Linked DNA regions of Homo sapiens: region 1 is linked to region 2. The links come from fine-mapping of genetic effects on gene expression. Tissue or cell type: prefrontal cortex. Region 2 holds a variant in brackets; the other region holds the start of a gene. All regions are shown on one strand. Distances are between the middles of the regions.

Region 1 (4,384 bases), 25 kb before region 2:
CAGTGAGTCTGAGTGGGGCCAAGATCCTGCATTTCTATTTATTTACTTAAATGAGGTCTCACTACGTTAGGCCAGGCTGATCCCAAACTCCTGGCCTCAACCGATCCTCCTGCCTTGGCCTCCCAAAATGCTGGGACTACAGGCATGAGCCAGCACGTCCTGCCAGATTCTGCATTTCTAACAAGCTCCCAGGTGATGTTGTAGGTCTGTGGACCACACTTTGAGTGCAAGGCTGTAGAGCACTTATCTTATTTCTCTGAGCGTTGATGGTTGGATTAATGACTCTTCCCACTGGCCCACAACCTCCATGAGGCAGGGATTTTGCCCATTCATTCAGTAATATTTCCCCAGTGTCTAGCACAGGCTCAGCACATTAACTAACTGGAGGAGTGAATCAACGGCCAGTGCTCCTTTATCCATGGGAGCTGGGAATAATCCCAGAGAGCAGACAACCTGCTGCTCAGATACATTCACACAAGTGTGTACACACACATGCCCAGCCCATCTCGTCTCTACCAGGCTGAGATGCAGGAGATGGCATTTGACTAGGCCTACTATGTGCACAGCTATGGCTGAATCACTTCCTTTTTAAAACAAAATTGTGTTAGCCACTAATCCTGCTGGAGAATCACTTCCTAATCCCATTTCATGAACTTCTGATTGATGTCTCACAAGGAGGTTCACCCCATGTGGCAACCCAAGATCTAGAATAAAGCTCACCCGTCTCCCCAGACCACTCCCCCAAGTCACCAGCCAGCACACCAAGTCCAGAAAAAAGTTTCTTTCTTTTTAATTAAACCAGCTTTAATTAAAAATAATAATAACCCAATAAGTCCTAAGTTTTCCAGGGGATGGGGCAGACCTAAAGGCCCACCAACTCCCCTTTCAGTCAGGAGCCCTGGTGCTGCCTGTCTGAAATCTCCAAGAAGTGTCCTCAGGGCGTGAAGAAGGCAGCCAGGTGTGTCTACGTGAAAGGGGGGCTCTCTCCCAGGAAGAAGCTGAGGGCAGACAGGTAAGTGGAGGTGGGGGGCAAACTTGTGGGAAAATGAAGGGACGCTAGCAAGTAAGTCATGAACCCAGGAGTCTGACCCAGGAGTGTCGGAAAAACATGAGAGAAGGTTGATGAAGTACAGTCGGTGGAGGAGGCGGCTTGGGATCACAGATCTGGCTTCCAAAGGCTTGGAACTCACCAGGAAACCTGGGGTATGGACTCACTGGAGGCGAGTCAGCTCCGGGGCAAGGGACCCACAGACAGCGCTGGGGTGGGGGGCGCCGCAAAGCTGGGGGCGCTCACAAGTGGAGGGAGAAGAAATGAGAGGCTGGCAGGTCAAAGGGGACGCTTCTGTCCAGTGGCGAGATGGTGGGAGCCTCCCCAGGGATGGGGGACGGAGAAGGATGTAGCAGGAGTTTGAGTCCAGGAGGCCACGACGAGAGGCGCAGGGTGTGCTCCAAGCCAGGGTGGGGGGTAGAGATGGGGCGCTCGAGGGCGGCGCCGCAGGTCCGGGGCACAGGTCGCACAGGTGCCTGCCCGCGCGGCGCAGGCTCACAGGTAGCGCTCCAGCCCCGACGCGAAGCCCGGCTGCCTCAGGTAGGCCTCCCCAGGGCTGAGCGGGCCGAGAGCGGCTGCCGGCCCGGCCAAGGCCAGGAGGGGCTCAGCGGGCAGCGGGCCGGGGCCGGGGCGCGTCGCGGGCAGTACCAGGCGGTCGGGGACCTGCGAGTAGAGTGGCGGGGAGGCGGCGGCAGCGCAGGGCGGGAAGGCTGCGGCTGCGGCGTCGGGCGCGGCGCAGCAGGGCGGCTCGGGGGCGCCCAGCCCCGCTAGCTCCGGCTGCAGGTTCACCAGGCTGTCGACGCTGAACAGACGCGCGGGCGGCGAGGGGCCCGGTCCGGCAGAAGGCGGCGGCACCAGCAGCGCGGGGCCGGGCGCGGGCGCGTAGGGCGCGTAGGGGAAGGGGAGCGGCGGCCCTGGCGCCGCGGCCGCGTGCGCGGGCAGCTCGGCGCGCTTGAAGCGCTTGCGGCGCCGCAGGAAGCTGCCGTTGTCGAACATGTCTGCGGCCGCGGGGTCCAGCGTCCAGTAGTTGCCCTTGCCCGGGTTGCCCGGCTCGCGGGGCACCTTGACGAAGCAGTCGTTGAGCGTGAGATTGTGGCGGATGCTGTTCTGCCACTTGCGCGGGCTGTCGCGGTAGAAGGCAAAGCGTTCGGTGATGAAGCGGTAGATGGCGGCCAGCGTGAGGCGGCGGCCCGGGGCGTGCGCCAGAGCCATGGCGATGAGCGCGATGTACGAGTAGGGCGGCTTCCCGCGCTGCAGGGGCCGCCGCCGCCGCCGCCCCGGGCCGGGCGCGGGCGTGGGGGCCGCCTCTCCGCGGCCAGCCGCCGCCTCCTCTGGCTCCCGCCCTGGCTCGGCTCCTGCGAGCGGCGACGGCGGCGGCCCCGACGGCGCGACCGCTGGCAGGGCAGGGAAGCCAGAGAACGCGGCGGGCGGATCCATGTCGCTGCGCCCCGCCATCGGCTGCGGCAGCCCCTGCCCGCGCGGCTCCGGGACCGCAGGGGCCGCCGACCCGCTTTATATGGACACGGCCCCCCCCCAACCACCGCCGGGGGAGAGGGCTCAGGCCTTGCCTGCTGGCCAGCGCCTCCCCTCTAATTTCCTCTCCCAGCCCCCTTACTCTGTTCACGGTACCCTCCTCCATTTCGCCCCTCCCTTTCTGCCTTTGGATCAGTTTTTCCCAGACCCAGACTCACCCCTTCCCCATCTCGGTTATATCAGCCCCTGGCCCCATCCCACTGTATTTGGTCAGTCCCCTTCCCTTTCCACCCCTCCTTCTACCCCCTCTCCTTTGGATCATTCCCAATCACAAATCCACCCATTCACTCTCCCAGCCCCCTCCCCATTTTGCTCCTCCCCATTTTGCTCCTCCCAGTAGTCGGTCCCCCCATCCTTCTCCTGGCCTTCCATCCCCAGCTGGAACAGAGATGAAGGCCGCCTTGCCAGCCCTCAGTATCCTGATGGGGAGGTGTCAGGCCCACTCACAGACATTAGGGAACCTGGGCCAAGGTAATGAAGCAGCGGGGCAGGGCAGAGCCAGGCCGGTTTTGTCTCTGGGAGAATGTTTGACTGCTCCAGATCAGGGTCACCATCTTGCCTCTCTGCCACCCCCCTCCCCCATACCCCTGTCATGCCCTCCCTCCAGGCCTTGAGAGCATTCTCTGAAAAAACAGAATTGTGGAAAGTGGTGCGGCCGCTTTAAATGAAGAGCCCCCAGGAAATCCACAACTTGGAGCTGCCTTTCTGGCTGCCTCCTCTCCACACCCCCCTGTTAAAGAAAACAGCTTTTCTTCACATACACACACACACACATACACCCACACACACAGTACAAAATGTAGGCTTCCACAGACTGGGGGTCTGAAAAAGCCGCCTTCTGACCCAGAAACACCACACTCACATCTCACTGGGGATGGGGGGTCTTTGGCAGTGTTTGTTAAAAACTCAGTCTGAGAAGTTCCACCCACAACTGGCATCCAGGGGGATGCAGCACCCAGCCTATTTTGGGAAACTTCTTCTCCCAAGAGACAGGAGACCCATCCCCAGCTCCAAGGGAACTACAGGGTGAAGGAGCCTTGTCTTAAAGTGGGTTGTCCTGGGGACAGGCAGATCAAGGGACTTGGACATGGAGCAGGGCTGGAAGGACAGTGAGCCCACTGAGGTGCCTGAGGTGCTGAGTTTAAGGGGAGCTCAGTCTCAGGGCCTTGCAAGTGCAGTCAGCACTTGAGAGCCAGGGCCTCCTTACATTTGGGGCATCTCACTTGCCCCATCCTAGTCCCCCAGCCATGCTATAGAGTGTCCCTAGGTATAGGTGACCAAAGCTAGTTACAGCAGGCCTGTAAACTCCAAACTCAAAATCCAGTTCAAAATCCAAACTCAAAGCATGGAGCTCAAGGGCCCCTCTCTCAGCTCCAGTCTCAGCTGATGACATCACAGCCACCATTACTGAGCATTTTGTATTTGGTAAACACTTTATGTACATTATTGCACTTAAGTTTGGGCACCCCGTGAAGTGAGTACTGTTATTATTCCTGTTTTGCAAATGAGGAAACTAAGGTTCTGAGAGGTTAAGTGGTTTCCCTGACTTCACACAGCTAGTAGTAAGTGGTAGAGCTGGAATTAAATGTGAAGTTCAAAGCTCTAGCACCCCACTCTTCTAAGAATGCCATCCTTTAAGGCTGAGCTGAGACATTAGAAATAATCAGAGTATTTCCAGCTCCCACAACTTCAGCTGCCAAAGTAGATTCTTAGCTTCTCTCCTCACCTCCTGGTCAGCATATCTAGGTGCCCATTGGGCATAACCACATGGATATTTCAAGGTATCTCAAACCCAAATGTCCT
Region 2 (4,384 bases):
GTTATTTTACCAAGGCTTTGACTGGAATGGCATGGTTTCAAATATAAACACACTGCTTTAAGGAATCAAAGTTGACTTATAGAGCAATTAAAGCCCCTCAGGAGAGCTGGCCTCATACCTTGTCTACACAGTCACAGTACAGGATTCCTAACATGTCAGATTGCCACTGCCTTCCTCCTCTGTAACTAAAGACCCTGTACTCGACAGATCAGCTGGCCCTACCCAGAATGATAAACTAGCTCATCTGGTCTTGTGGCTTCTGCCCAGAAACTGACTCATGGCAAGAGGACAGCTTCGACTCCCTAGATTTTATATCCAACCGGATCAATCAGCACTCCCCACTTTCCGACCACCTGCCCATCATTTTATCCTTAAAAACCGCAGTCCCCAAGTTTTGGGGGAGACTGGTTTGAGTAATAATAAAACTCTGGTCTCCTGTTAAAAAAAAAAAAGGAAGGAAGGAGAGAGAGAAAGAAAGAAAAGAAGAAAAAGAAAGAAAGAAAGGAGAAAGAAGCTATGTATATATGTATAGAATATGCTTATTTTATGCATTGAGTACCTAGGGGAAAAATATACAGGAAACCTGGCATTGCTTTTTTGAGGGGGGCTTGTGGACAGAGATAATGGGGGTTGGATGAAGACATAATTTTCACTGTTTGAAATCTTTACCATTTATTCTGCCTACATTAAGAAAAAAAAGGCAAGAGAAGCATAATAAATATATAGAGGCAAGTCTTAGAAGAAACGGCTGAGTCTGAAGTCTTTTACGTCATAGAAGGTGTCAGGGAGATGGAGGCTGTTGCTTTTTAACCACGATATGCATTACTTTGATGAGACTATTTTAAAAATTGTTTTTATTGTGCTAAAATAAACGTAACACAAAATTCACCATTTAACTTTTTTTTTTCCGAGACGAAGTCTTGCTCTGTTGCCCAGGCTGGAGTGCAATGGCACCATTTCAGCTCCCTACAATCTCACCCTCCCAGGTTCAAGTGATCCTCCTGCCTCACCCTCCCAAGTAGCTGGGATTACAAGCATGTGCCACCACACCTGGATAATTTTTGTATTTTTAGTAGAGACGGGGTTTCACCATGTTGACCAGGTTGGTCTTGAACTCCTGACACCAAGTGATCCACCCACCTTGGCCTCCCAAAGTGTTGGTATTACAGGCGTGAGCCACCACACCCAGCCCATTTAACCATTTTTAATTGTACAATTCAATGGCATTAAGTACCTTCATGTTGTTATGCAAGCGTTACCACCATTCATCTCCAGAACCTTTTTCATCTTCCCAAACTGAAACTCCAGACCCATTAAACAATACTCCCATTCCCCAATCCTCCCAGCCCCTGGCAACCACCATTCTGCTTTCTGTCTCTATGAATCTGATTACTCATATATTTGGAATCATACAGTATTTGTATTTTTGTGACTGGCTTAGCTTATTTTATGTAGCATAATGTCTTCAAGGTTCATCTGTGTTGTAGCATGTGTCAGAATCAGCCTTTTTGTGGACGAGTCATATTCAGATGAAACTATTTTTTAAATAGAGGAATAGGAGGAGGAGGAAAAAAGGAGGATGTAGGTAGATAATAAGAGATGGCCTAGGTCAGGCAAATGATGTGCTGTTTGCCCGGCATATTAGTTTTCTATTGCTGCATAACAAATTACCACAAAGAGCAGCTTAAAGCAATCCCGTTTATTACCTCACAGTCCTCTGGTTCATATATCTGGGCAGTGCAACTGACTGGGATCTCTGCTCACAGTATTACAACGTCTGAATCAAGATGTCAGTGGGGGCTGGGCGCAGTGGCTCACATCTGTAATCCCAGGACTTTGGGAGGCCGAGGCTGGCGGATCACTTGAGGTCAGGAGTTCAAGACCAGCCTGGCCAACATGGTGAAACCCTGTCTCTACTAAAAGTACAAAAATGAGGCAAGCATGGTGGCGTGCACCTGTAATCCCAGCTACTCGGGAGGCTGAGGCAGGAGAATCGCCTGAACCCGGGAGGGGGAGGTTGCAGTGAGCCGAGATCGTGCCAGTGCACTCCAGCCTGGGTGACAGAGCGAGACTCCGTCTAAAAAAAAAAAAAAAAGATGTCAGCAGGGCTGGGCTGTCATCTAGAAGTTCTTTCAGCCTCATTCACACTGTTGGCAGAATGTTCCTTCCAGCTGTGGAACCGAGGTCCTCATTTCCTTGCTGTCGGCCAGGGGTGAGGGGAGCTCCTAGAAGCCATTCTCCCTTCCTTGCACATGCCCCCACTACCTTCAAAGCCAGTAACGGCAGGTCAAGTACTTCTCATGCCTTGATTCTCACTTCCTTCTCTCTTACCAGCCAGAGAAAACTCACTTTTAATGAACCCATGGGATTTGATTGGGCCCACCCAGTTAATCTACCTTTTGCCACATAGCATAACATAACCTTACAGGTTCAACACACACTCAAAGGGGAGGGCACTGTACAAGGGTGAGGGTCACCGGGGACATCATAGAACTCTGCCTGCCCCAATGACCTTCACCCTTGGATAATTAGCTCTTCTGTGGAATGTGTTACATTACATGGCAAGAATTTTGCAGAAGCAATTAAGGTTACTAACCAGTTGACTTAAGATAGGGAGATTAACCAGGTAGGCCTAAGATAATCA[C/T]GTGAGCCCTTTAAAAGCAGAATTTTGTCCAGCTGGTGACAGAAAAGAAGTCAGTAGTTCAAAGCATGAGGAGGGCTCTATCTTGAAAGTGGAGAGTGCACGTGGAAGGGACCCTAGAGCAGCCTCTAGTACCAAGGCCACCCCATGGCCAGCAGTGACCATGGTAATGAGGACTTGCTAGGAAATGGATTCTGCCAACAATGTGAATGAGCTTGGAAGTGATTCTTTCCCAGGGCCTCTGAATGAGAGCCAGGCCCAGCTGAAGCCTTGATTTCAGACTTGTGATACTGTGGGCAGAAAACCCAGTCAAGCCTGCACAGACTTCTGACCTACAGAACTGTGAGGTAATAAAATGGATGGTGGTTTTTTTTGTTTGTTTGTTTGTTTTGAGACAGTCTTGCTCTGTCGCCCAGGCTGGAGTGCAGTGCCACGACCTCGGCTCACTGCAACCTCCACCTCCTTGGTTCAAGCGATTCTCCTCCCTCAGCCTCCCAAGTAGCTGGGACTACAGACACGTGCCACCGTGCCCAGCTAATTTTTTTGTATTTTTAGCAGAGACGGGATTTCACCATGTTAGCCAGGATGGTCTCACTCTCCTGACCTTGTGATTCACCTGCCTCAGCCTCCCAACGTGCTGGGATAACAGGCGTGAGCCACCGCACCCAGGGATGGATGTTGTTTTAAGTCACTAAGTTAATGGTGATTTATTATGTAGCAAAAGAAAATTAATACACCTGGCTGTCCCCCTACCCATCTGCTCCCAAAACTCTTATTTTGTTTATGTTCCAAGAGGTGTTTTAGACTAGACTGCAGACAGGCAGACCTGGATTCGAGCTTGCCCTCTATAAGGATTTGCAGTCATGAGCACAGTAAACATTCACTAAACAGCAGCTGTAATGATAGTTTTTATACTCATACTCCCTCTGTAATTGATCCCAATTCCCTGCCCCACTTCTCTGGAAAGTTTGCACACCCTCCCCTGCACTTTGCACTTATTCTCCTACTGCATTATCAGACGTTGCTTCAGCCCCTGTCATGATGAAAGAGCTCTGAGAATGTGGAAGAACACAGTGGAACTTTCTGGAAGTCTGAAGTATCCAGTGAAGAGGGCTGCTCAGGGAGGGGTGAGTTATCTGTTGCTAGGGTAGCTACCTGTCAGGGATGCTGGAAGGGGTTGACTTCATGACATCTTGAGTCTGCCTCTAGCTTGTGTTTTCAAGCTGGCATTTTGTGGGGGGGGCGGCGTGGTGGGGGGAATTTTTTTTTTTTTTTCAGATAGTCTCTCTCTGTTGCCCAGGCTGGAGTGCAGTGGTGCGATCTCAGCTCACTGCAACCTCCACCTCCCAGGTTCAAGAGATTCTCCTTCCTCAGCCTCCCAAGTAACTGGGATTACAGGCGTGAGCCACTGCACCCAGCCTGGCACTTGTTTTATTGAAATATATATACACACACACACACACACATAAGCCAGGAGGCAGGTGCTAGAAGGTGAGAGACCTCTCCAGCTGGGGTTAATGGGGAAGGCAGAGTCAGGTATTAGAGTGAGGCATTAATTCATTCACTGAATTACTTGAACATGTATTCTTGACTCTGGCAGTCTTGCACTGGGAGATTCTGACATAGACTGAAAAATAGGTGAGATTTTGACAGCTTCTCCTGTGGAAAAAGTTCCAGGTAGAAGTCACATCATGATCAAGACCTGACAGATCCAGTTCTCCATGGAGCAGCCACAGGACAAGC

Direction of the effects. Alleles are on the strand shown, and positions count from the first base shown. SD is a standard deviation of normalised expression in the study named.
In carriers of allele T in region 2, the expression in prefrontal cortex of the gene that starts at base 2,534 in region 1 tends to be higher than with C alone (moderate effect, 0.52 SD a copy in GTEx).

What was found. PIP is the estimated chance that this variant, and not a neighbour inherited with it, causes the effect. A credible set is the group of variants that fine-mapping cannot tell apart.
Region 1: FOXE3 starts here. The variant in region 2 is the best candidate, but not a certain one, in a credible set for the expression of FOXE3 in prefrontal cortex (GTEx, PIP 0.54).

The regions. Positions count from the first base shown.
Region 1 is chr1:47,414,435-47,418,818 of GRCh38, reverse strand. FOXE3 (forkhead box E3) reads right to left here and starts at 2,534. Exons shown (of 1, transcript NM_012186.3): 1 at 767-2,534. The coding sequence starts at 2,503. The coding sequence ends at 1,544. All of the region lies in intron 1 of LINC01389 (long intergenic non-protein coding RNA 1389), which reads left to right.
Region 2 is chr1:47,389,200-47,393,583 of GRCh38, reverse strand. All of the region lies in intron 3 of LINC01389 (long intergenic non-protein coding RNA 1389), which reads left to right. Among named protein-coding and RNA genes, the nearest start is that of FOXE3, 25 kb to the left of the region's middle. The variant C/T (reference allele first, on the strand shown) is at 2,645.